Regions from separate parts of the Homo sapiens genome. Here regions 1, 2, 3, 5 and 6 are each reported to be linked to region 4. The links are microRNA targets in miRTarBase. Many come from high-throughput screens and were not tested one by one. Region 4 holds a microRNA gene; each other region holds the end of a gene's coding sequence.
The links. The annotated mature microRNA hsa-miR-6879-5p reads CAGGGCAGGGAAGGUGGGAGAG and lies in region 4 at 2,881-2,902, shown strand. An mRNA with a match to its seed (bases 2 to 7 or 8) in the 3' UTR can be bound and repressed. Matches are read on the target gene's strand: a 7mer-m8 pairs with bases 2 to 8, a 7mer-A1 pairs with bases 2 to 7 and ends in A, and an 8mer does both.

Region 1: the mRNA of ALS2CL is a reported target of hsa-miR-6879-5p. Seed matches in the 3' UTR shown: 7mer-m8 at 4,548-4,554 and 8mer at 3,791-3,798.
Region 2: miRTarBase lists YTHDF3 as a target of hsa-miR-6879-5p. Seed matches in the 3' UTR shown: 7mer-m8 at 643-649.
Region 3: miRTarBase lists PRSS8 as a target of hsa-miR-6879-5p. Seed matches in the 3' UTR shown: 7mer-m8 at 1,953-1,959.
Region 5: the mRNA of DNM2 is a reported target of hsa-miR-6879-5p. Seed matches in the 3' UTR shown: 7mer-A1 at 1,853-1,859.
Region 6: miRTarBase lists AGO1 as a target of hsa-miR-6879-5p. Seed matches in the 3' UTR shown: 7mer-m8 at 1,043-1,049, 7mer-m8 at 815-821, 7mer-A1 at 640-646 and 7mer-m8 at 521-527.

Annotation. Positions count from the first base shown.
Region 1 is chr3:46,666,286-46,671,535 of GRCh38, forward strand. It overlaps ALS2CL (ALS2 C-terminal like), which reads right to left. Exons shown (of 26, transcript NM_147129.5): 25 at 5,203-5,250; 26 at 2,710-4,779. The coding sequence ends at 4,699. Among named protein-coding and RNA genes, the nearest start is that of ALS2CL, 25 kb to the right of the region's middle.
Region 2 is chr8:63,209,229-63,212,228 of GRCh38, forward strand. YTHDF3 (YTH N6-methyladenosine RNA binding protein F3) reads left to right here. Exons shown (of 5, transcript NM_152758.6): 5 at 455-3,000. The coding sequence ends at 478. Among named protein-coding and RNA genes, the nearest start is that of YTHDF3, 42 kb to the left of the region's middle.
Region 3 is chr16:31,128,340-31,133,589 of GRCh38, reverse strand. It overlaps PRSS8 (serine protease 8), which reads left to right. Exons shown (of 6, transcript NM_002773.5): 3 at 202-364; 4 at 637-908; 5 at 995-1,161; 6 at 1,255-2,157. The coding sequence ends at 1,581. KAT8 (lysine acetyltransferase 8) reads right to left here. Exons shown (of 11, transcript NM_032188.3): 7 at 3,433-3,573; 8 at 3,230-3,323; 9 at 2,984-3,134; 10 at 2,690-2,844; 11 at 2,231-2,395. The coding sequence ends at 2,331. Among named protein-coding and RNA genes, the nearest start is that of PRSS8, 4.8 kb to the left of the region's middle. RefSeq lists enhancers at 697-1,642, 2,591-3,538, 3,539-4,486.
Region 4 is chr11:65,015,630-65,020,879 of GRCh38, forward strand. MIR6879 (microRNA 6879) reads left to right here and starts at 2,876; the gene lies at 2,876-2,941. ARL2 (ARF like GTPase 2) reads left to right here. Exons shown (of 5, transcript NM_001667.4): 2 at 2,735-2,845; 3 at 2,942-3,104; 4 at 4,790-4,870. ARL2-SNX15 (ARL2-SNX15 readthrough (NMD candidate)) reads left to right here. Exons shown (of 11, transcript NR_037650.2): 2 at 2,735-2,845; 3 at 2,942-3,104.
Region 5 is chr19:10,830,518-10,833,517 of GRCh38, reverse strand. DNM2 (dynamin 2) reads right to left here. Exons shown (of 21, transcript NM_001005361.3): 21 at 1,615-2,540. The coding sequence ends at 2,471. It overlaps TMED1 (transmembrane p24 trafficking protein 1), which reads left to right. Exons shown (of 4, transcript NM_006858.4): 4 at 305-1,451. The coding sequence ends at 523. Among named protein-coding and RNA genes, the nearest start is that of MIR6793, 3.0 kb to the right of the region's middle.
Region 6 is chr1:35,919,444-35,922,443 of GRCh38, reverse strand. It overlaps AGO1 (argonaute RISC component 1), which reads right to left. Exons shown (of 19, transcript NM_012199.5): 19 at 1-2,945. The coding sequence ends at 2,837. Among named protein-coding and RNA genes, the nearest start is that of AGO3, 10 kb to the left of the region's middle.

The DNA of each region.
Region 1 (5,250 bases), not on the chromosome of region 4:
GCCAAACACCTGGGCTCCAGCTCTGCACCTGGTAGTGCTGGAGTCGTGCAGTCACCCAGCTGGCACCTGGGCTCTGGTATGAGGCCGTGTGGGTCCAGTCCATCATAGCTACTCAGCCCCCTGTTTATTGGGGACAGAGTGTGTGTTTCTGCTTGCTCCTGAGGGCCTAGGTTTCCTGGGTTGTGACTCCTGGGGCTTTGGTCATGAGGAAGTTGAGATAAAGCCCATAAAGTGCTTAGCCCGCACGTGGGTCCTCTTCAGTGCATCCAGAGCCCAAGCGGCATCTCTTGCCTGCCCTTCACAGCAAAGGGTGCTCCTCATGGCAGAACAGGGTGTCTGGGCAGCTCCTTTGCTTACAGACAACAAACAGGACCCAGTTAGGAAAAGGACTTGGCCAAGGTCCCAGAGAGACCAAGACCTGGCAGCCTGGACCCCATCCCAGGTTCTCGCCCGCAGCAAGAGTAAACACCAGAGTACGTGTCTGTACAACCCTTGACAAAGCCAACCAGAAAAGCCCTGACCCGATCTGAGCTTGACCTTGACCCTCATTCTCACTCCAGTCCCTAAATCTAACTTGACACTGACCCTGACTTCAACCCTAATCCCTAATTGTATCCCTCACACTGACTTTAACCCAGACCCTCGCCTTATCCTTTCCCAGGTGCCCATAAGAGGGCAGCCCCTGTCCCCTGCTGGGCCCCAGTGGTCAGCCGTCCCTCTGGGAGAGTGACAGCTGAGGTCCTGGGGCCCTCCTTAGGGCCCTACTAGTGAGCATCTGCTTCACTCACACAGTGACACTAAGCACCTCTCCAGCAGCCCCTGGTCACCCCTCTGGCCTCAGCATCCCTCCAGCCTTCTCTGGAGCTGCAGTAGGCAAGGGGCATGCACAGTGGGCACCCTGCTCACGCACTGGCTCCAGCATCCTCGGGGGTGGTGTGAATGAACAGAGGCTTGGTCAGCACTCGGGTCCCTCAGATGCCTGCCAGCTCCCACTGTGGGGCAGCTGTTCCAGACCATACTCCAGACAGGGAACAGGGCTGCCATCCAGGAGGCCCCTGGGGAGGCTCGCTGACAAAGAAGTCAGCAGTCCCTTCAGAGGACTTCATGGGGCCATGCTGTGCCCTGGTCCCTTTCAGAACGCCCTCTCCATCCACCACTACCTCTGGGTCACTGGCTATAGCCTGGCCACGCCACTCTGTGGCTTTCCTGCAGCTGGAGCTCCAACCAAGCAGTAGGGCAGTGCCTGGAGGTGTCCTGCCACACTGGCATCATAGCTGCCTGGTGTGGGCACACGGCCCCAGGAGGGCCAGGCCTGAGCCTCTGGTGCCGTGTGTGACTATGGAGCAAGGCACAGAGGGTGTCCATCTTTTCTTCCCCTTCTCCTGAGGCATCAGCATCAACTTGCTGTCTACTCCTGGCCTGTGTTTGCCCGGGGCTCCATTTCCCTGGGGCCCGTCCATCCTGGACACACCAGAGGGGTTGTTTGCACGGATGCTTCTCCAGCCAGTCTGAGATGCTGACCTACTCTGGGGGTCAGGCCCTTCAGAGTCCAACCCCTCCCGTGTCAACCTGTATTCTGTCCTCGTCCCCAACTGCTGTGGAGCACAGGCCCCTGGCGAGGCGGCCTGCACTGTGCCCGGGGGAAGGATGGGAAGAAGACACCACAGAGGACTGTTGACTTTGGAGGCAAGAGAGCCCCCGCCAAAGCAATGAAACATGGGCCCAGGTCTGGAAAGGGGCTGTGAAGAGAGAAGCCTTCTTCCTAGGGGAACAGGGGCTTCATATGACCTAGGCCTGCAAGGATGGATCTGCCTAGGACCTAGTGGGACTGGAGGAGGGCATTTCTGCAAGAAAAGAGATGAGTGAGAGGGGCAGGAGCAGGAGGGCAGGGCAGAACAGGGTGGCAGATGGAGTTGACTGGTGAAGGGAGTAGTGGGCCTGGGGGAAGCAGGACTAGAGGTTGTATGATTGACTGCATGCAGGCCCGGGTGCAGTTGTGGGTGGGGCGGTTGTCCAGGGCCAGGGCTGCCGTCTAGGATAAGCAGGTGGTCCGGCTGTGCAACCTGGACACATCTGCTCACTGAAAAGGCCTTTGGCCCCTTGGGTATCTGTCATTCTCAGCCCCACGTCCTGGCCCCCGAGGGCAAGGCCAATGTGTTTGAGTCCCACTGTAGCCTGGGACTCAGCCCTTACAGGAGAGGAAACTGCCTGAGTCCGTGAATGGGCCGTGTCTCCCTGTGCCTCTCTCCACTCTGTCCCAGGTGATTGTGAAGTGCCATTTGGGATTATTAGGAAGAATCTTAGCACTTCCTCAAGATCACCACTGAAGAGAGAATCCTCATCCCGGGAAAGAGGTGGGAACTAGAATGGTGGAGGGACTGGAGCTAGGCCCTGCCAGGCTGCTCTGAACATCAGTGAGATCACTGAGGTGCTAGGGTCCCTGCTGGCCAACCCTGCCATCCAGAGACTGGGCACCAGCAGGCTCTCTGGGCAGCCAGGGGCTCCTGCAGCAGCTGGGAGAGGTCACCCTGGAATGTGGACTGGGTGGGTCTTCTGTGCATGAAGCACTCACTGCAGTGGTCAGGCTCATCTACAGCAAGGACTCCTGCCTGCCTGCCTGCTCTGTGGGTTTCGTTGTAAGGGTCTGATATAGCTCTGTCTGCCCTTGGACTCTTCCAGGACCCTTTTAAAACACTGCAGCCCCCTAGGCTCTGTCCAGATGCTCTTTTTTATTTATTTTATTTTTATTTTTATTTTTATTTTTGAGGCAGGGTTTCATTTTGTCACCCAGGATTGAGTGCAGAGGTGCGATCTCCGCTCACTGCAACCTCGACCCTCCAGGCTCAGGGATCTTCCCACCTCAGCCTCCCGAGTAGCTGGGACCACAGGCACACACCAACACACCCAGCTAATTATTTTATTTTGTATTTGTAGAGACAGGGTCTCACTATGTTGCCCAGGCTGGTCTTGAACTCTCAGTTTCCAGCAGCCTTCCTGCCTCAGCCTCCCAAAGTGAGCCACTGTGCCCAGCCAGAGGCTCCAGTTCCACTGGTGTTGGGTGAGGCCTAGTGAGAGGGTGGGCAGAGGGCCTTGTTGAATCTGAACTGCAGCAAGGGCTCGCAGATCTCAAAGGAGGCAGGGAAGTGTGCTGGGGTCCCGTCAGCATCGCATGAACTCAGGGATGGCTGCATTTGAGGCCAGGGTCAGGCTGTCCTCACTTATCAGGGGACAAGAGCTGGCTGATGCCGATTGGAAAGGATAGAATCCTAGTGAGCTGCCCCAGTCCCGGTAAGCATGAGTGCCTGCATATCCTCGCTCTTCCTCAGTTCCACCCCCTTCCTGGGGGTGTCACAGGCTCCTGGCAGAACCAGAGCCCATGCCCTGCATTTGGGCTGGCACATTTAGTGGAACCAGCCAGAGAAATGCTGTCCCTCCTTCCTGGGGAAGTGGTGGCAAACAGAGGCGCCAAGGCTCTCTCTGCCCACTGCCCACATCATCTCTGGGACTCTGCGGGTGCCCTCTGCCCCAAGGCTACTGCCAGGGACTCAGGTGTGGCTGGGCTTTCCAGAGCCTCCCTCAACCCTCCCCTCACAGGCTGAAGTCAGTACTTCGTTTGGGGGAGCCACACCCAGAGCCAGGAGCCTGACTTGCTCAGGGCCTAGGGAATGGGACCAAGAGTGATCCAGCTTCTTCTCCAGAGCTGCACCCTGCACAAATCCACCCTCTCCCTACGCTTTGCCCTGGACACTTTCAGAACACATCACACTGCCTGTCATCATGCATCTCCGGCTAGGGCAGAGGGAGACCGTGCACGTCACCCGGCACAATGTGACGGAAGATAAACTGTGTGGGGAAGAGAAACTGAGGCCCAACAGGAATAAAGCTGCCCCAAGACCCAGCTCCTGCCTCTCTTGGTCCCACACTAGAACCACTGTTTAAATAAAGTCCTCCCCTCCCAAAGGTACTCCTGCTCCCCAACTACAGCAGGGTCCTGGGTCCTGGGTCTGAGGGTTTATTGGTCAGGGCCCAGGCAGATGTCATGTGCCCCTGTTGTCCCCACGCAGGCCCACAGACATCACAGGAGAATGATTTACAAGCCACTTGGGGCCTGCTGGCAGTGAGGGTTTACCCACCCCCCGCCCCAGCTTGCTCCAGTGCCGCCGTTTACGTCATGGGTACGTGGCCTGCAGTTCACGGATCTCCAGGCCCATCCTGTTGACTGCATACCCAGTGAGGCTTCGAGCCTGCCAGAGGTCAATACAGCCCAGCAGACTAAAGTCAGTTTTCCAAAAGGACTCTGGAATTCAGCAAAATGAATGGAAGGTCCTTTACAGCGTACTCACTCCACCATTGTACAGATGGCAGCACTGAGGCCCGGAGAGGCTCTGGAACTTGGGAGAAAGGCTCAGGCTAAGAGAAGCCAGGGACTCCTCACCCCCAGCCTGTGAGCTGCTGCAGATTAAGGGGTCATTGAAGATGGGCTAGTGGCCAAGGGAAAACCACCACATCCAGGGCCACACCCGTCACCCCTCACCCTCATCCCAGTCAGGGCAGCAGCAGCATCTTCCTGTGCAAAACAAAATGCTCATCTCCTCCAAGAGCTGCTTCTGAGGGCCTGTCCTGCCCCTTGCCTTGGGTAATGAGGGACAGGCTGGCAGTGCCCTGCTCAGCTCTTCAGTCTGTCCAGGAAAGGCCAGGCTACCAGAGCTCCCTGGAGTGCCAGTGGCCAGGTAAGCGGTGCAGCCTCATGTCTTCTTTCTGGATGTGCTCGTAACAGGACTGGAGGGAGAGAGGCAAGGCTGAGGCCAGTTGACCTGCCTGATCCCAACCACATGCACAGGATCTAGGGCTCAATAGCTGTGTGCACCCACCTCCCAACCCAGAGGAGGCGTGTCTCCAACTCAGCCCTCAGCCACAGTCTGCGAGGAAAATGGGGCCCTTCCTCTCCCACTGTGCTTGGGAATGCAGCATGGAGCAATCATGGCCCCAGGGTCCCCAGGGCTGGGATGCACTGTGGGACCCCTCCCTGGCTCCTTTAATAAGAGCAGGATCAGGGACACTGTGAGGACCCTTCCCAGAGTCACACATGAGCTGTGAATTTGAGCTCCCTCCCACTATGGTGTTATGATGTCTGGGAAGGGAAAAGGGTCTGCCCCAGGGGCCAGGGCATTTCCACCTCGGTCCACAGCCCCTGTCCCTTACCTCCAGGGCTGTGAGCAGGAAGTCATACAGGCCTCCTGTGTGGTTGGG
Region 2 (3,000 bases), not on the chromosome of region 4:
CTCTCTTTGTGATTTAAAGTTTTTTTTATTAGTCTGAAATCTTCATTGAATGCAATTGTACTGCAATTTAATGTAACTTTTAACCTTTTTCTCCTGCCCCTACCTCAGCCAATAGCTTTTAGTCTGTTTGACACCTCAAGATGAAAAACTCTTTGAAAGGACTGAAAAGATGTTATTATATTCTCATCATAAACAAACAATAGGGATGTGGAGAGGATCTATACTCTCCTGAAATAGGTCTTTGTGTTTGAGAGTTCTTTATGTAAAATGTTTTGTGGTAATAATCTCACTATGGTATATAGAGGTAATTATCAATTGTTTTTAATTACTTGAATTAGTACTTGAACTTTATATGGAGATGATTTACATTATATGTGCATATAGTTTAAATCTTTAAATAATGAGAGTTTTTCATTGTAATTCTTTTTGTGTGTGTGTGTTTTTTTTTTTTCAGGAGAGAAATAGAAACAAACAATAACCGTATGAAGATGTCCTGTTAAATTTACAACACTAACGATGTAGACTCTGGAAATGCCTAATAAGTCAAAGAAGACGTATTAAAGCTCTTTTCTGCTTAAGGTGACATCTTTGAACACTTTAACACAAAGTTGACTCTTCTCGTAATGGTTTTCATCAGCGCATCTGCCCTTATACTCTTCACCAAACACACTTGAGAACTGTAACTTCGTCAAGCACTTTCTGTCCTGAAGCTTTTACCAGTATCTGCTGTCTTTTGTAATTATGCATCCTAGCTAAGGCACAGAAGACTGAATGAATGCAAGGATTCATTAACTCTTTGAATTTGTTAAATACTAACAGTTAACCATTAGAAGTGGTTCAATGATGTAAGAGTCACACTGCTTCAACTTTTTCTTTGTTGTAGTTTTTAAATTGTCGATTTTTAGCTATTTGACAGATTAAAAGCAAAATAATCATGCCATATTTAGTCCTGGAGTTCAAGTCTAAATGTTGATGTGAAAAATTATTGTAGTAAACTTTTAATATGGCAAAGCAACCTTAAGCTCTATTTTAGCCAAATGAAACATAATCTGAAATTATATTAGAACATTTCCCTTGTCTTCAAACTGTTTGGTGTAACAGAATATTGATATGCAGCTTGGTGGATTTCACCAGTTAATGCACATTCTTCTTCCCTCCTCCCCCCATTAATATGTATACTGAAAAATGTGCATTTGTCTGAGGAATTATTTTGTTTGCTACCACTTAATGAATCTCAAAATTTTGAGTAAATGTACCTCAGTCTAATCAGACTTTTTATGACCTTTATAACTACATTTAAAACCCTTAATTCCTATTTCTGGGTGTTTGCGAGCCTGATTGCTATCATGAAGTAAAAATTTATTACTCTAGGTATTCACTAGCTAAATAAACATAGTTCTTGTTTAGCAAGCATATGTTGTTCCTCAGCTCTTTTCTCCAGCTTTTGCAGTGTCCTGGCATCCTTAAAATACTTTGAAAATATGGCCTTGATCCATGGATTAAATCAGTATCTAAGTGAATGTGTTGATGTTTTATTGATCAGATCTATATAAGTGGGAATACAGCATATATCTGGATATTCTTATAGTTATCTTTTTAACATCTTATTTTTTTCATTAATTACATATCAACATTAATTTTGTATCTTGAAGCAAATTGATTTTGTATAATTAAATGTGTCAAGCATCTGTATTAATTGATTTGATGGCATAAGGTTATGAAAATAATGTACTGCCCCATGTATTACTGTTCCAAAAGGAGAAAGCTATGTAGAAAGATACATTAAGGGTGAAAATAGCAATACAGTAGATTTGAATACCTTGATGTTTTGCATTACTTCATTTATGTTTACATCATGTTTAGAAATGTTTTCATTTACTGTGGTCTTTGGTCACTTCAGCTCAAAGACCTAGTGATGGATATTTCTTTGAGGCTTTCATTTATATAATTTTATTTTGTACAATGTTTTTTTTAAATGTGCAAATACTGTATTCAAGTGAAAAAAATACAGTATTTGTAGATAACCATAGCTACTACACAGTTCTTCGGTAGTCCCAGTGTAGTTATATCAGTGTTTACTGAAGGGAACATCAAAATATTAATGGTATATTATAAAATAAAGACTTTCTTAAAGGAAAATTGCACCTATTTTACCTTTTTAAGAGTAAGCCATGAAATCTTGTAACATGTCTCTTAACTATTTATAATGAAAAGTGGCATTTGGGTATAGTCACCACAGCAATGTTCTACATCCCTAAGATTATCTAGGTAGGACATGTCAAAGATGACTGTTGTCATTCTGGAGGTCCTATTAGAGAATATTATAAAAGGGTGACCTTGTAGGAAGGATCTGAGTCCTCCCCCTGAGGTTCTCTTTTTCTTGGTGCTTTATTAGCAACTCTGGATATTTTTATAAAACTAGTTACATTATAAACGGTTTCAAACATGTTTAATTTACATTAGGTTTTTATGTAAGAGTGTCATGGAAGCACTCAGCAAGCAGGCTGATTGCAATAGACTCAGACATGCGAATAAATGTAATTGAGAGTCTATTCATGGTGAGGAGTACATCCCAGTGCCTTTAACCTGGATTTCTAATCTTAAGTGAAATGGGTGCAGCATTCCTTTGGAAAAAAAAATCTTTTTATTTTCAAGTGATAATTTTGTGTTTTTCTCATATAAGTTTTCTCCAGAGCACCCACCTTCTCTTCCTTCTTGGTCTGTCATTATATTGCAAAATATTTTTCCTCTGAATGAAATTATCACAGGTTGTCTCAAGCACAACCAACTGAATGTCTCTTAACTGTGGGGACCAAAAGGGAGAGAGCCTGGGGTCTACAAGAGGAGACACATCATCAAATGTTTGAATGATCACAAATTAAGACATTATCAGCCCAGTAAATTTCTTGCTTAATGTTTTTCCAAGTTCTGGCTTGAATATTTCTTATTAAAGCTATCTTATGTGGGTATTTTATTTTGAAAGGTATTATAGTTTGTATA
Region 3 (5,250 bases), not on the chromosome of region 4:
GCTTGCAAGGAGAGAAGCTGCCATGAGACCTGAATTAGGTAATGGGTAGTGGACAGAAGGGGCACAACTGCCCATGCCTGGGAGGGGACAAAGGGGTGTTGACTCCTGTGAACCCACTTCCCAAGCTCTATATCAGAGCTCCTGGGCTGCATAGGAGTGGCCAGGCTAACAACCTGACCCCTTCCCTTCCTCCCTGGGCAGCTCCCTGCGGTGTGGCCCCCCAAGCACGCATCACAGGTGGCAGCAGTGCAGTCGCCGGTCAGTGGCCCTGGCAGGTCAGCATCACCTATGAAGGCGTCCATGTGTGTGGTGGCTCTCTCGTGTCTGAGCAGTGGGTGCTGTCAGCTGCTCACTGCTTCCCCAGGTACCAAATGGTGAAAGTCAAAAGTGGGCTGGAGGTCAAAGTTAATGGGTCAATCCAGGTCAGAGGTTGGGGTTCTTGGGTTGGGTCTGAGAGTGTCAGTTCTAAGTCTGGAAGGACCAGTTAGGAGTGAAGGTGAGGGGTCAGAGGTTACATGATAAAACTAAGGTGCAATTTGAGACCTAAAAGGGGCTGATCGGAATCAGGGGTTGGCAGTGGGGGTTGGGGAACAAGGAGAGGTCTCCTGGGTCTCAGCCTTTGCCCCCTGCCTGCAGCGAGCACCACAAGGAAGCCTATGAGGTCAAGCTGGGGGCCCACCAGCTAGACTCCTACTCCGAGGACGCCAAGGTCAGCACCCTGAAGGACATCATCCCCCACCCCAGCTACCTCCAGGAGGGCTCCCAGGGCGACATTGCACTCCTCCAACTCAGCAGACCCATCACCTTCTCCCGCTACATCCGGCCCATCTGCCTCCCTGCAGCCAACGCCTCCTTCCCCAACGGCCTCCACTGCACTGTCACTGGCTGGGGTCATGTGGCCCCCTCAGGTGAGGTGGGACGCTGGGTGCCTAGAGGTGTGGAGGGGCACCTGACTTGGGGAGGGGCCCAGGGTAAGCCTCTTTTACCCCCACAGTGAGCCTCCTGACGCCCAAGCCACTGCAGCAACTCGAGGTGCCTCTGATCAGTCGTGAGACGTGTAACTGCCTGTACAACATCGACGCCAAGCCTGAGGAGCCGCACTTTGTCCAAGAGGACATGGTGTGTGCTGGCTATGTGGAGGGGGGCAAGGACGCCTGCCAGGTAAGCACAGGCCCGGGGGGCAGATGACCAGTGCAACTTCGGAAAGGAGGCCTGGCCCGGTCCTGATGGCTGCTGTGTGGCTTCTCTCCTCAGGGTGACTCTGGGGGCCCACTCTCCTGCCCTGTGGAGGGTCTCTGGTACCTGACGGGCATTGTGAGCTGGGGAGATGCCTGTGGGGCCCGCAACAGGCCTGGTGTGTACACTCTGGCCTCCAGCTATGCCTCCTGGATCCAAAGCAAGGTGACAGAACTCCAGCCTCGTGTGGTGCCCCAAACCCAGGAGTCCCAGCCCGACAGCAACCTCTGTGGCAGCCACCTGGCCTTCAGCTCTGCCCCAGCCCAGGGCTTGCTGAGGCCCATCCTTTTCCTGCCTCTGGGCCTGGCTCTGGGCCTCCTCTCCCCATGGCTCAGCGAGCACTGAGCTGGCCCTACTTCCAGGATGGATGCATCACACTCAAGGACAGGAGCCTGGTCCTTCCCTGATGGCCTTTGGACCCAGGGCCTGACTTGAGCCACTCCTTCCTTCAGGACTCTGCGGGAGGCTGGGGCCCCATCTTGATCTTTGAGCCCATTCTTCTGGGTGTGCTTTTTGGGACCATCACTGAGAGTCAGGAGTTTTACTGCCTGTAGCAATGGCCAGAGCCTCTGGCCCCTCACCCACCATGGACCAGCCCATTGGCCGAGCTCCTGGGGAGCTCCTGGGACCCTTGGCTATGAAAATGAGCCCTGGCTCCCACCTGTTTCTGGAAGACTGCTCCCGGCCCGCCTGCCCAGACTGATGAGCACATCTCTCTGCCCTCTCCCTGTGTTCTGGGCTGGGGCCACCTTTGTGCAGCTTCGAGGACAGGAAAGGCCCCAATCTTGCCCACTGGCCGCTGAGCGCCCCCGAGCCCTGACTCCTGGACTCCGGAGGACTGAGCCCCCACCGGAACTGGGCTGGCGCTTGGATCTGGGGTGGGAGTAACAGGGCAGAAATGATTAAAATGTTTGAGCACAACTTGCCGTGCATGTGTGAAGTGAAATGAAGAACATCCGCTCTTGGCCTCCCCTTCCCCTCCAAAGTCCAGGGCCACCAGAACTGACTTTATTAAAAAAATGACAAAACAGGTCTATACATATTTACAGGCTGGGAGCCAGGAGGCTCAGGTCCGACAGCAGGGGCCAGGCTGCTCACTTCTTGGAGAGCTTGACTTGCTTGTGCTTGGGGGGTGCCCACTTGAGGCAGACGGAGTCCACTGTGGGGAGAAGGGGCGGGAGGCAGGGCTGGGCCTGGGCCAGGCCAGCTCACACCTGGCTGCCCTCCTCTGGGCTCAGGCCAGTTTCACCTCCTCCAGGTGAGAACAAAAGGGCAGGCTGTGCTGGGGAGGGGTAGGGAAGCCCAGGAATGAGAGGCCTGCCCCGGGCTCCATCCTGGGAGCTGGTCTGACTGGTTTGGGATCATGTGACAGCAATAAGGAGGCCTTGACTCCTACCAGTCCATATACTGACACTCCCCCACCGCCCCCGACACACAGCAGCCCCCCACCCACCTGTGATGGGTGGTTTCTTATACTGGGCACTTTTGAGGTGCTCCTCCACCAGCTTGGGTGTGACACAGATCACGTGCTGGCCCTTCCAGTACTTGACCATATTGAGGGATTGCAGGGTACTGATGATGTCATTTTGGGTGATACTGGTCATCTGGCTGCAAAAAGGGATGAGAGCAAATGCCAGACCTGGTGCCCTTGTGGGATCTGGCCAGGATGGTGACAGGGTATGAGGAAGCAGGATCGTGGCCCATCTCAGGGCAAGTCCTGCCCCCAGGGCCCGGGAGGCCCCCTCACCTGAGGTCCTTGATGGACAGTGTGCCCCGGAAGTCCCGCAGGATCTCTAGCAGCACCCAGGACCAGTAGCTGCGGTAGCTGAGCTTGCCCAGGTCAGACAGTGGCTTCTCCGGGGAGCCGACTGTGCTCTCCAGCTTGGAGAGCTCATAACCTGGCAGCAGTAGAAAGAGGAACTTAGGATCCAGCCTGCCCTGGCACCCCTGCCCCACAGGTCTCCCCCTCCCAGACAGGCCAGGAACCACTCACTGAAAGCGATGAGGAACTTCCCGTAGCCGCGGCGTTGGTAGGGGGGCAAGGTCAGGATGCAGGCCACATTGTTTCCATCCGGGGACTCCTTCTCCTGCAGGAGGCAGGTGCTCAGGGCCGCTGGGGAGGCTCTGCCCCACTCTCTGTTCATGCCCACCTTCGCCCTCCCCACCCTCCCCACCCCGAGTTTCCAGACCCAGCACCTTGGAGAAGTAGCCAACAATGTGGGCCCCCTGCCGGTCCACCTCAGTCAGGATGTAAAAGACGAACGGCTCCACGTCAAAGTACAGTGTCTTATGGTCCAGGAAAAGCTTGGCCAGCAGACACAGGTTCTGACAGTAAATCTAGGGTTGAGGAGGGGGGAGACAGGCTCAGGGGGCAGGCACAGGCCCCACCCAGCTGGTTCCAGCGGCCGGCACCAGCCCACGCGAAGTGGGCGCCTCGCCAGGCCAGAAGGATTTCACACTGGAAGGAGTCTTCGGTCAGCCTCTGACGAACAGGGAACTGGAAATGAGAGAGCAACAGCACTTCGGAGGTGCCAGTGGAGCTGGATGAAGCCCGGCCACCCCTTCTGAGTGCCAAATACGAGCTGGGTGCCTTCCATGCAGGATCTGCTTCAGTCTTCACAGACATTAACTCTGTTTCAGCTCGTGAAACTGAGGCTCCGAGGCAGGAATTTAGACCGTCCTGTTCATGGCTGTGTCCCCAGCGCCTAGCACGAGTCTAAGTATGAAGCTGGGTGCCTGGTAAACGTCTGCTGAATGGAGGAACCTCGAGCCCTGTCTGTCCACTTGGCTGCACTCCAGGAGGGGGACAATGGGACCGAGTTTGGCTTCACGGCACACACTAAGGGGCTCCCTGGTTTATGACACCACAGCCACTCTCTCATCCAACCCGGCAGCTGTGCGAGCCCAGCACTGCCAGGCCCATCTTACTCAGGAGGAAGCTGAAGCTCCCAGAGTGGAAGTGCTTGCCCAGAGCCTCAAAGCTGGCAGAGCGCAGTTGGAAAGCACCCCCACATCTCCAGCGGGGGCCCTTCTGCTATTCCACACAGCCATGCTCAGGAAGGCAGAGCAGGGGCAAGGGCTGGGCTCAGCCTGCGTATTCTCCGAGTCCAAGGCTAATCAAGCCCCAAGAGGTCACCGATAATAACAAGGCCCGTGTTTATTAAGCACATACTAGTGCTAAGCACTGCACTAAACACTTGACATTTGCTGTCTCATTTATTCCACTAACAACACAACTAGGTAAATATTAAATATTATGACTCCCGTCTTATGGACAAGGAAACAGGAACAAACCATGTTAAGTAACTTGTCTGTGGTCAGTGAGGAAGTGACAAGGCAACATGAGCCACCCTGAAGCCTGCCCTCTCTGTCCTGTGCTGTATGGCCCATCTGCGGGAAACCAGTACACTTGGCCAGACCCTCCCAGACTGATAAGGCAAAGGCCAAGTTCTCTACAACAGCTAGGCAGGTCCCAAAGGCCCCAACCTGCCCTGCTGAAGTCATTCGGGGCCAGGAACAAGGAACTCAAACCTTGAAAGCCACAGAGCTCTCTCAGGAGGAAATTTCACACAAAGCAGTCCCCTCCCAGGCAAAAACAAACACCTTTCTTTCCAACGGAAGGAGAGAGCACTTCTAAAAGCAGCCTCAGGCAAGAAAATCTCCTCTGGGTTCCAGAACAACCCAAGTTTGAACCTAACCCCACCAGCAGAAGAGTCTTGGGGCCACCACAAGGCCCTGTGTTTCCTATGCACCAACTACAGGCCTAGTGCCAGGCTAGGAGGCCCTCAGAGGCCTTCTTTTTTTTTTTTGAGACAGATTCTCAATCTGACGACCAGGCTGGAGTACAGTGGCACAATCTCAGCTCACTGCAACCTCTGCCTCCCAGGTTCAAGCAATTCTTGTGCCTCAGCCTCCCGAGTAGCTGGGATTACAGGTGCGCACCACCACGCCAGCTAATTTTTTGTATTTTTAGTCGAGGAGTTTCGTCATGTTACCCAGGCTGCTCTCAAACTC
Region 4 (5,250 bases):
TGTAATAGAGGCTGGGTGCGGTGGCACACACCTGTAACCCTAGCACTTTGGGAGGCTGAGGTGGGAGGTTCGCTTGAGCCCAGGTGTTTGAGACCAGCCTGGGCAACATAGTGAGACTCTGTCTCTATTTATACATATATATATTCTCCATACATACTATATATATATGGGCCATGCTTTGGACCATGCTTCTGGGGAACAGGGCCTTATACTGCTCCAGGATGAACTCCCACTACGTATATAGGTATGGAGAATAATGCAATTTAGGGTGGTCAAAGAAGGCCACTGTATGATGGCAGGGCGCAGTGGCTCATGCCTGTAATCCCAGCACTTTGAAAGGCCGGGGCGGATGGATCGCCTGATGTCAGGAGTTTTGAGACCAGTCTGGCCAACATGGTGAAATCCCGTCTCTACTGAAAATACAAAAATTAGCTGGATGTGGTGGTGGACACCTTTAATCCCAGCTACCTGGGAGGCTGAGGCAAGAGAATTGCCAGAACCCGGGAGGCGGAGACTGCAGTGAGCTGAGATCACGCCATTGCAGTCCAGCCTGGGTGACAAGAGCGAAACTCTGTTAAAAAAAAAAAAAATGACAATTGAGTACATGAGGGAGGCGAGGGTTGAACCATATAGCAATTCGGGGGGGGGGGAAACTTTAAAGCAAAGGGAACAGCAAGTCAGAGGCCCTGGGAGGACTAACTGGCGTGTTCAGAGGACTGGTGAGGAGGGCAGTATGGCTGGAGTGGGGAGGAGGAGCGTTGACTGGGAACCCCCTCACCTAGGGCCTTTTGGTTTTTGGTTTTCCCTTTCAGTGAGAAGTGCAGTGGAGAGAAGGAATCGCAGACCAGTTAGGCCACTGCAGTGACGCAGGCGAGATAGGATGGTGGCTTGGACCAGGATGGAAGTAGTGAGGTCATGGAAGTTTCTGGCCTGAGCAATTAGAAGGGTGAGGAACCATTTGCTGAGATGGAGAGGACTGGGGGAGGAGCAGGTTCAGGGTGGAGATGAGAACCCTGTGTGTGCCTGTGTGTGCCATGTGAGATGCCTCCGAGACAGCCCAGAAGTGTCAGGCAGGCAGCTGGATGTAGGCACTGAGGTCCAGTGTGTGGGAGGTGCACATTTGGGTGTTATCAGGATAGAGATGGTATTTGAAGCTGTGATCCTGGATGAGGTCACCCAGGGATGAGCGTGGCCAGAGAAGAGAACCCGGTTGTACCAGGATGAAGTCAGGTGAGGAGCAGAACCAGGTGAGGGTGTGTCCCAGTGCCAAGGGCAGCGCATGTGCTGGGGAGGAGGGTGAGCCACTCCATCAGGTGCTGAGTGGGGAACAGAAGATGACTGAGCGCTGTCCCAGCACTAGAGGGCCACAGGGAGGTCTTTGGGGACTGACCTTGGTAAGGACAGTTTTGGCCACAGCAGCAGCAAAAGCCTGATGGGAGTGTGTTCTTGAAAGAGCAAGAAGGCAGAAATGGGGGTGAGCACAAACAACTATTTTGAGATTTCCTGTAAAAGGAAAGATATAAATGAATAACTAGATGGGGCAGAGAGATCAAGGGCTTTGTTTGCTCTTTTTTTTTTTTTAATCAGACGGGGTCTCGCTGAGTCGCCCAGGCTGGAGTACAGTGGTGTGATCTCGGCTCATTGCAACCTCTGCCTGCCGGGTTCAAGCAATTCTCCTGTCTCAGCCTCCCGAGTAGCTGGGACTATAGGGGCCCGCCACCACGCCTGGCTGATTTTTGTAGTTTTAGTAGAGATGGGGTTTCACCTTGTTGGTCAGGCTGGTTTCGAACTCCTGACCTCAGATGATCCACCCACCTTGGCCTCCCAAAGTGCTGGGATTACAGGTGTGAGCCACCGCGCCCGGCCTATTTGCTCTTTTTAAGGTGGGAGAAAGAACGGCAAGCTCATCAGCCAGTGGGAATGATCAAGAGGGGAAGGAAACATGGATGATGGCTTGGGGGCAGGGGGTCATCAGCGGCTAGGTTCCAGGGGCTAAGGCTGGGCCTCAGGGGAAATGCCCTCCTCACCCCTCTCCTGGGCCTAGGTCATTTGCCCCAGCTCCGATGAGCAGGGAAAGGTGGTCGAGTCCAGGACCCGCCCACCCCACCATGCCCAACTGAGCTGCAGTGTTGGGAAGATAGAGGAGGGTGGTTCCTTCCACAGGTAAGCACACCCATTAATTTGCACTGTGCAGTAGCAGGTCTGGAATATTCCAGAAACAAATGAGGGTGGCTGCCTCCAGATATTTGTTCTTACCTTAGTTCTTCAAAAAGCTTGCTCCTTGTATTTTGGGTCTCAGCTCCAGACACCTCAGAGAGGCCTTCCCCGGCACCTGAGCTGAAAGAGCCTCCTCCGATGGCCCTCTTGGAAAGCCTCTCTGTTGTGTTGATGGCGCTAGCCGGGATCTGGCAGGGCCTTCTTTTCTCATTTGTTTGTACTTTATTGACTGTCTTCCCGCTAGAGTGTAAGCTTCCTAAGGGCAGGGCTTTGTCCTCTAGCACCCAGAAGAGGGTCTGGCACATAGTAGGTGTTCAACAAATTAAGGAGCCTTTGGTCAGTAGAGATGATATTTATAATTTGATACTTTCATATTTATTGTGGGCCGATTATGGTCAGGCATGTGCTCAACTCAGTTTGATACATGGTGGGAAATAATGAGTCCCCTAAGGGGCTCTGCAACAATGTCACCACCTGGCAGAGAACAGGGACTTCTCCTTAACCTGCTGCGCCCCAGTGGCCTGGACAATGCTGGAAAGACAACCATCCTGAAGAAGTTCAATGGGGAGGACATCGACACCATCTCCCCAACGCTGGGCTTCAACATCAAGACCCTGGAGCACCGAGGGTGAGCAGGGGCCCCATGGGAGGGCCAGCCCAGAGCAGGGCAGGGAAGGTGGGAGAGGGGCCCAGCTGACCCTCCTGTCACCCGCTCCTTGCCCAGATTCAAGCTGAACATCTGGGATGTGGGTGGCCAGAAGTCCCTGCGGTCCTACTGGCGGAACTACTTTGAGAGCACCGATGGCCTCATCTGGGTAGTGGACAGCGCAGACCGCCAGCGCATGCAGGACTGCCAGCGGGAGCTCCAGAGCCTGCTGGTGGAGGAGGTGGGCAGCTCCTACCCTTTGTGTACATGTATGGACGTGTGGCTGCCTTCTCAGCAGATGCCCAGAGGGGCCCGTGGCCCCAGAGGGAAACCAGAGGCAGGATCCCTTCCTTCTCTGGGCCCCCACCATGGGAGGCCCATGGTGCCAGAGGCAGGACACATGCTGTGGACTGAGATTGAGTTAACGTCCCTGTGGTGTTACTACGTCACTACCCTGAGCATCAGTTTCTATGCCTTGAAATGGTGATGATGACACCCACATCACTGGGCTTTAGGGAGGATAACCCAAGGCCAGTATGAAGCTTCGAGAGGCCATGGAGCCTGGCTCAAGAGTCTGACTCTTTGCTGTGTGACCTCAGCTGGGGGTGGTGGCACGCACCTATAGTCCTAGCTACTCTGGAGGCTCAGACAGGAGGATCAGTTGAGCCCAGGAGGTTGAGGCTGCAGTGAGCTGTGATCGTGCCACTGCACTCCAGCCTCCTGGGCGACAGAGCAAGACCCTGTCTCAAAAAAAAAAAAAAAGGAAGGGGCCAGGTGCGGTGGCTCACGCCTGTAATCCCAGCACTTTGGGAGGCTGAAGCGGGCGGATCACGAGGTCAGGAGATCGAGACCGTCCTGGCTAACATGGTGAAACCCCGTGTCTACTAAAAATACAAAAAATTAGCCAGGCATGGTGGCGGGCGCCTGTAGTCCCAGCTACTCAGGAGGCTGAGGCAGGAAAATGGCGTGAACCTGGGAGGCGGAGCTTGCAGTGAGCCGAGATTGTGCCACTGCACTCCAGCCTGGGCAACAGAGTGAGACTCCGTCTCAAAAAAAAAAAAGAAGGACACTTGCAAAGATAGTACAGAGGTCAGAGGTCCCCCATATACCCTTTACCTTGCTTCCCCATCTTACCTAACCGTGGCCTGTCCAAACTAATAAATCAACACTGGTGAATTACTATTATCTTAATTACAGATTTTATTTGAATTTCACGTTTTTCCACTAATATACTTTTTGTGTTCCAATGTTTGATTCAGGCTACAAAATTGCATTTAGTTGAAAATGAGGACACTTGTGAGAGTGAAAGGGGGGATTCTGCAGGCAGAGTGGGGACTGTCCTGGGCACACCGCACACATCTCCTATGTGGGTGGAGCAGGTCAGATGAGATCAGGGCCGTCAAATGCTGGTCAAGGCAGGTCAAGGCCCAAGGGTTAGACCCGTCCACCCACATCTCTCCCAATCACAGACACATATGTGGAAACAACTAGAATCAGAGGTGGACAGTGAGGCCTGTCGGGAGTGGAACGGTTAAAGGGCTGTGTGAACCCAGAAGAGGGAGAGTTCACATCCTCTGTGCATGTCTGGTCATCAGATTGGAGCAGTCTAGAACCACGGAGAGCTCAGGGATCATCTTATGCAACACCCCTCCCTGTTCATGGAAGAGGAAGCTGGAGCATGGGGACAGCGGTGTCCCCTGGGTGGTGGTTGGCTGGAACCAGAACCCTGGCCCAGGGCTGCTCCATTCATGTGGGCCAGCCTTGATGGCTACGTCCACAAACTCACTCCTGGGCCTCTCCCACCACCACGGGGCCTCACCTTGATCTTCCAGGTCGATCCTTCACCCCAGATGCTCTGGGCCATTAGAGGAGGGGTCAGGCTGTCCTCTGAGTCCCCACCCCACCCCTCTATCTTTTCTCCCCCAGCGCCTGGCCGGAGCAACCCTCCTCATCTTTGCTAATAAGCAGGACCTGCCTGGAGCACTGTCCTCTAACGCCATCCGCGAGGTGAGTCCAGGCCCCGGGACAGGCTCGCTGAGGGAAAGGGGCATACATTTATTTATTTTAAAAGCATTTATTAAAAATAACCAAAAAGGCTGGGTGCAGTGGCTCACGCCTGTAATACCAGCACTTTGGGAGGCCAAGGCGAGTGGATCACCTGAGGTCAGGAGTTCGAGACCAGCCTGACCAACATGATGAAACCCCGTCTGTACTAAAAATACAAAAATTAGCTGGGTGCAGTGGCGTGCGCCTGTAAGCCCAGCTACTCAGGAGGCTGAGACAGGAGAATCGCTTGAACCCAGGACGTGGAGGTTGCAGTGAGCCAAGATTGCGCCATTGTACTCTAGCCTGTGGGAAAAGAGTGAGACTTCGTCTCAAAAAAAAAA
Region 5 (3,000 bases), not on the chromosome of region 4:
AGTGCTAGGATTATAGGCATGAGCCACCATGCTCATCCTTGTACATTTATTTAGGCATTAAATGTTCACAGCAATTTGGAAGCTTATAGAAGAGGAAACAGGCTCAGATAGGTTAATTAAGTTGCTCATGGTCACAGCCAGTGAGTGGCAGGGTGAGGATTTGAACTTAGCCTGAACAAGTCTGTGTTTGCAGCTGTACCTCCCAGGGTTAATACAGCCTCCCTCCGTATCCCCCGGTTTTTTTGGTCTCTGCTCCCTGATGGGTGGAGGGAGGCCTGACCCTTCCCCTCCCGCTGCCCTGTAGGAGTCCATTGAGACCATGCGGACCCGGCTGGAGCGCAGCATCCAGATGCTCACGCTACTGCGGGCCTTCGAGGCACGTGACCGCAACCTGCAAGAGGGCAACTTGGAGCGGGTCAACTTCTGGTCAGCTGTCAACGTGGCGGTGCTGCTGCTGGTGGCTGTGCTGCAGGTCTGCACGCTCAAGCGCTTCTTCCAGGACAAGCGCCCGGTGCCCACGTAGCCCCTGCCATGGAAGGAAGAACGGGACAAAGGAGGGGCAGCAGGGTGTGTGCATATGAGACTTGGGGGTCCCTCCCCAATTTTAGTTTCCTGCCAAAACGGGAGTGTGCAGTCAGGGCCTGCGGTCTGGCCCCATGAGTCTCCTTCCGTCCTCAGCGGGCAGGGAACACCTCTGGCTTGTAGAAGGGACGGCTCAGTGGCTGCACCGACGGTCCTGGAAATCTCACATGGTGGGCACTGCAGCGTTGGAACGTGAGCCTCGGATTTCCTGGCCCCTCTACTGTAAATGTGCCTTAGCCTAAGCCTCCCATCCTGTGTTAGCGTTGCCTGGTGCGGGGCAGGGCCTAACAAGGAAACCTGGGCCCTCCAAGCCAGGTTGAGGTCTGGTAACAGAATGCCAGGAAGGGGGCCTGGAAGACCACCTGCCCCGGCCCCTCTCCTGCAGGGGCCCCACACAGGCATGAGGGATGGCCCGGCCAAAGTCTAGGCAGAAGCCTCCTATAACAAAGGGTGGTGTGGCCTGGGCATTGGAGTCAATAAATTATGGTCAGAAAATCACAAGAGCCTGCTGATTGGGGCTCAGGGACACCAGCCAGGACAGACCGGCCCCCGAGGGGGCAGCCAGACAGGTGGGAGGGGCCTCCCACGAAGCTCAGAAGAAAGGTCGTGCGGGAGCCGATGGAGGTGGTCGCCTGGCACAAGAGAAAAATCAGAAAGCAAAGTTTAACTGAGCCCCAGTTGGGCCACGAGGCTTGGGCTTCCCCACGAGGTGAGAGAAGCAGGGCCTGAGGGTAGGAAGGGGGTGGAGCGCTGGGGTCCCCGCTTCACCAGGCAGCAGCCAGGCCTGTGCACGTGGGGGTGTGCAGGGGGTCAGAGAATATCTGCTCCCACTCCTCACATGCTAAGGAAAGTAAAAGCTCTCCCCTGTATCGAGTGGCTTCCTCTGAAAGGTGACACCCCCGAAAGCAGAGCCCTCAGGGAGATGGGAGGCACTTATGAGTGCAGGGACTTGGGCATCCTTATGGGAGGCCTGATGGAGGTGGCACCCATGTCCCCAGCCTGAACACTAACACAAGAGGCCCACACAGCAGCCACCAGCAGCGTCTTCCCTTTATTTTAGTTTATTAATAGAATACAGAGTGCAGGCACTTACAGTGGTCAAACTGAGCGAGGAGTGGGTGAGGTCTCCTCAGAGAGAGGCCGCCCTGGGCCCACCCATCAGGGAGGCATGGGCGGGAGCTGAGAGGCCCCCAAGACCCCCCGCCACCACCACCCACATAGCCCAAGCCCAGCCACCCTGGGGGACCCAGGAGGAGGAGGAGGAGAGGAATAGGGCAAGGCCGGCCCGGGCCAACGGCTCCGGGCCTAGCAAAGGCACCTCTGGCAGCCGAGGCTGGGCCAGGCTCAGGCTGTGTGGTTAATATGGCCGGGAAGGACTATGTACACCTCAGGCCTGCCAGCTGGGCACTACCGAGCCCACTGGGCCAGGCTTGCCGCTGGGGAGCTCCTGCTAATGGGAAGTTGATATACCCCTGCACCCCAGCAAGGCCTGGGGATGTAGGCGCCCTTGGTGCCCGCACTTATAGAAGGCCTGCCCTACATGGGCTTTCCCAGCCCAAGAAGACCTTGGTAGAGTCCCCCCCAGGCTGGACCCCTCATTCAGGATGGTGTCAAGGGTTCTGGTCCCCCCTCTGCCACCCTGAGACTCCATCCCCCAAAGTGCAACACCCCAGCGCCCCCTGCCTGGAGCTCCAGGGCCCCTTTGCGCAGTGCGGTGTCCAGCCAGGCACAGGGGCCGGCCCTGGACCGGGGCCAGCGTTAAGGAAGAGGCCAGGGCTGCCCACTGGGAGCCTGGTCCCAGCATAGGGGCGGCGGAGGGCCCCAGACCACTGAAGCTCCTGCGCCGCGGGTGCGTGAGGCCCCCCCGAGAGCACGCCCCCCTCGAGGCCTAGTCGAGCAGGGATGGCTCGGCTGGGCGGATAATGGTGGGCCGGCTGGGCGCAGCAGGGGGTCTTCTGCTGCAAAGAGAATAAAGACAGGTGGGGAGGGGGAGACGGCAGTGAGGCCGGGAGCAAGAGGCAGGCCTGGGTTGAGGACCCAGCCCCCACCCACACACCACCCCAGGGTGTTCCCAGGCTGACCTCCGCAAGCCACCAGGGTGTCGGGCAGGAGTGCCAAACCTAGGCATCAACTCGCCTGCTGTTTGACCCTCAGTGAGCCCCCTGCCCTCCCTGGGCCTCAGCTTCCCCACCGGAGAAGTGGGGAGAATAAAGCCTGGCCCACGGTAGGTTGAGGCAGGCAGGAGCAGGAAGGAGAAGAAGGTAAACAGTGGGAGGAGGTGCCCAGTGTGAGGGTTCCCCAGCTGCCTGGTGGCACACCCCAGTAGGCAGAGGGCAAGCTGGGAGCCCCGGAGTCACCAGGGCTCCGCTACTCTGTGACACTGAACAAGCCTCTTGGCCTCTCTGGGCCTGTTTCCTC
Region 6 (3,000 bases), not on the chromosome of region 4:
TGGGTAAGAAGCACCACTTAAACCAAATCCACATGAGCCAAAGCTTGCTGCCAACACCACTTCTCCATCTGCATGCACCACCTTTCAAACAGGAATAATCTCAAGGTCGGGGTATTTTTCAAGTCTCAAAAATTATCTTTTTACAAAAAAATCAGAGTAAGAACTCATTTCTTGTCATTGCCCAAAGCTGATTCTCTTGCTTTTTATTTCTTGAATGGCATAAGCCACGTCAAAGGGCTAAAAATGCATTTCAAGCCCCAGCTGAAAACCAACTGGAGAGAGTGAGGCAAAGAGAGAAAAGGAGAGAACACAAACTTGTTGCTGGGAGTAGAGGCTGCCACCTGCTCCCTATGGACATTTGCAAATGCTGGTGAATGACTGGACCCTCCAGGAATAGTGCCCTGATCCTAGCCCCAAAATGTATCCAAGTGGAGAACATGCAGAGCCCACTGTCCCAGGAGAACTCCCCTCCCCAAAGGGTGACAGAACACGAAGTAGACTGTATATGAAGGCAATGGACAGGGCAGATGGAGTGTTAGCATCACTCTCTTTAGGCACTTGTGTAAGGAATGTAGGCTCTCCAGTGAGCTGCCTCCTCCCAGAGCCCTCCATTCTGTTCTTCAGCTGGGCTTGTGCCTATAGGGCACCCCATGCTGTAGCCAGCAGGAAAAAAGTAAAGGAGGAGTTACTCAACAGTCCTGATGCTTTCTCCATAATGAATGTTTGTGCTACGTTTTGTGAGTTGCTGAACAATGTAGCCAACCAGAACAGAACCTGGGATAGATTGTTTTGCATAGCAAATCCGGGTCATACAAGGGCAGCTAAGGGGAGGAAATGGTAGTTCTAACTCTACAGGCCAGGATTTAGACCCTTCTTCCTCCAGCTGGCCTCCAAGCCTGGGCTAGGTCTAAAGTAATCATGGCTTCATCACCAGATCAGGATAGATCCAAGCCCAGGCTCCTCAAAGAGGAAATTCCACACTGAAGTTGCAACTCCCCATCCCAAGCAGTGGGGCAGGAAAAAAATGAACAGTCAAGGAAAAAGGGCAGGGGGGATGCTTGCTTCAAGGCCAACAGAGACCAAGCTAGAACCACCACCTTCTCCAGTCCTGCAAGACAGCCAAACCCCATGTCTCAAGACAAAAAAAAAAAAAAAAAAAAGTCCATGCCACCCACCCACATGCCCTAGTGGGAAACCAGGAAAAATTCATTTTTGTAAACAGAAGCAATAGGGAGCAGCAAAATTCCCCAGCCTGTCCACAGGACACACTGCAATCTAGGATGAGCCAAAGGGTCAGAGGACAGTCCAGGGGAAGGAAAAAGATGCACTTGCAAGAAAGAGTGCAGGACAGTGCAGAGGAGGGAGGCTATAGCAAGAAAAAGGTATTATCTGCACAGAGGAAGGATGGAGCCTGGACCCCATCTTGGGGCGATAACCACCCCCTCCCTACCTAGCCAGGTCAGAGAACAAATCAGGTACACAGTTCATTCTGATGGCTCAATGTTTCTGGGATATAAACTCATCAGGCATGGGAAGGATTTCCAAATTTTGGCAATACACTCAAGTTATGGTATAAAAATAACATTTTGTTTTCTCTCTTTTTTCTCATTTTAGACCTAAGAGTTTTTTGTTATAAGACACCCCAGTTAAGAAATATTGAAACATAAGAGACTTGACCATCAAGGGAGAAAAGAAGCCAAGAGTGAAAAATGCTATGAAAGTAACTCCAGACCTGGGCGGGGCGGGAGGTAGGAGGAATAAGGAGAAAAGGAGGCATAAGTGGAAAGGCCAGGGGCCTGTCATCTCAGCAGCTCCGAGACTTGTCATGTTTGAAAGTGCAAATGTCAATGGATTTTAACCATCTTGAGGTTGTGATCTTTTAAAAAGCTCAATGAATGAGGAAGTCAATTCCTTCAAATGCAAAATAGCTGGCTTTCTGGCTGGAGGTTTGTTGGGTCTGGGGTATTTCTTCCCCATCTACCTCCTCTCCCACCCCCACCCCATTCCCCAAAGAAAGGTACAAAAGGTTGCAGTTCTGCAGCATTACCGTTACAGGGAAGGCACTGGTTACCCACCAGCGGGCGGAAGGAAGACAGGGTCGTGTCACTTCAAAGCTAAGTGCCATAGTGCCTTAAGTATTACTAGGGGCTGGATGTCTGTCAGGGAGGAGAAGTAAGGTGGGGCAGAAAATGTGGACAGAGAGGAATAAGGGTAAGGTGGGGGGTGGCAGCTGGGGGAGGAGCAACCAAAACCATTAAAAAATCTTCCTACAAACTGGATTCTGAACCCATTAAAACATCTAGTATCCTAAAATATTGATCTGGGTCTGGTTTCATTTTTCTTCTTAAACAAATCTAGTCCTTTTCTGATTAAGGCTCCTAAAAAATCCTTCCCTCCTCCCACCCACTTTCTCAAGCCCCTCACTTTCCCATCTAAAGTATCAAACCCAAACCTAACCAGCTTTTGTCTGCAGGGCTACAGAGTTGACCTTACCAAGCTGTCAAGCATGAGTCTTTAGCACTGTGAGTCACATGAGACACCTGTGTGTATGGTGGGCACCAGTGCTGCCCCTTTTGGTCCAGTGGGGTCAGGGCCAGATGTGACAAGATGGGGTGAGGGGTGGGGGACATGAGGTTGATATCAGAGATTTCTGGCTGGTGGTCTGTCTTGCTGGCCCTGTTCCCCACTCTTACACCACCTCTATAGAAGGAAACAAGGCATCCTACACTCCTCCCTACCCCACCTCCCTCCTCCTTGCTTCCTCTGGATTTGGGTGGCACAGCTCCTGGGGCTTGGAAAGCTTTCTTCTATCCAGTGAGGTAACAGCGTTCTGCCTTCAAGCGAAGTACATGGTGCGCAGAGTATCCTGGTGAACCTGCACGGCTTTGGCCAGGGCCTGGGGGTCCCGCCCATTGCTCTGCCCCGATATGTGGCTCCCCTCTCCACTGAAAAGGAAAAAATGAAAGAAGTCCTTCCTGGTGAACTGAGAGCTGCTGCTAA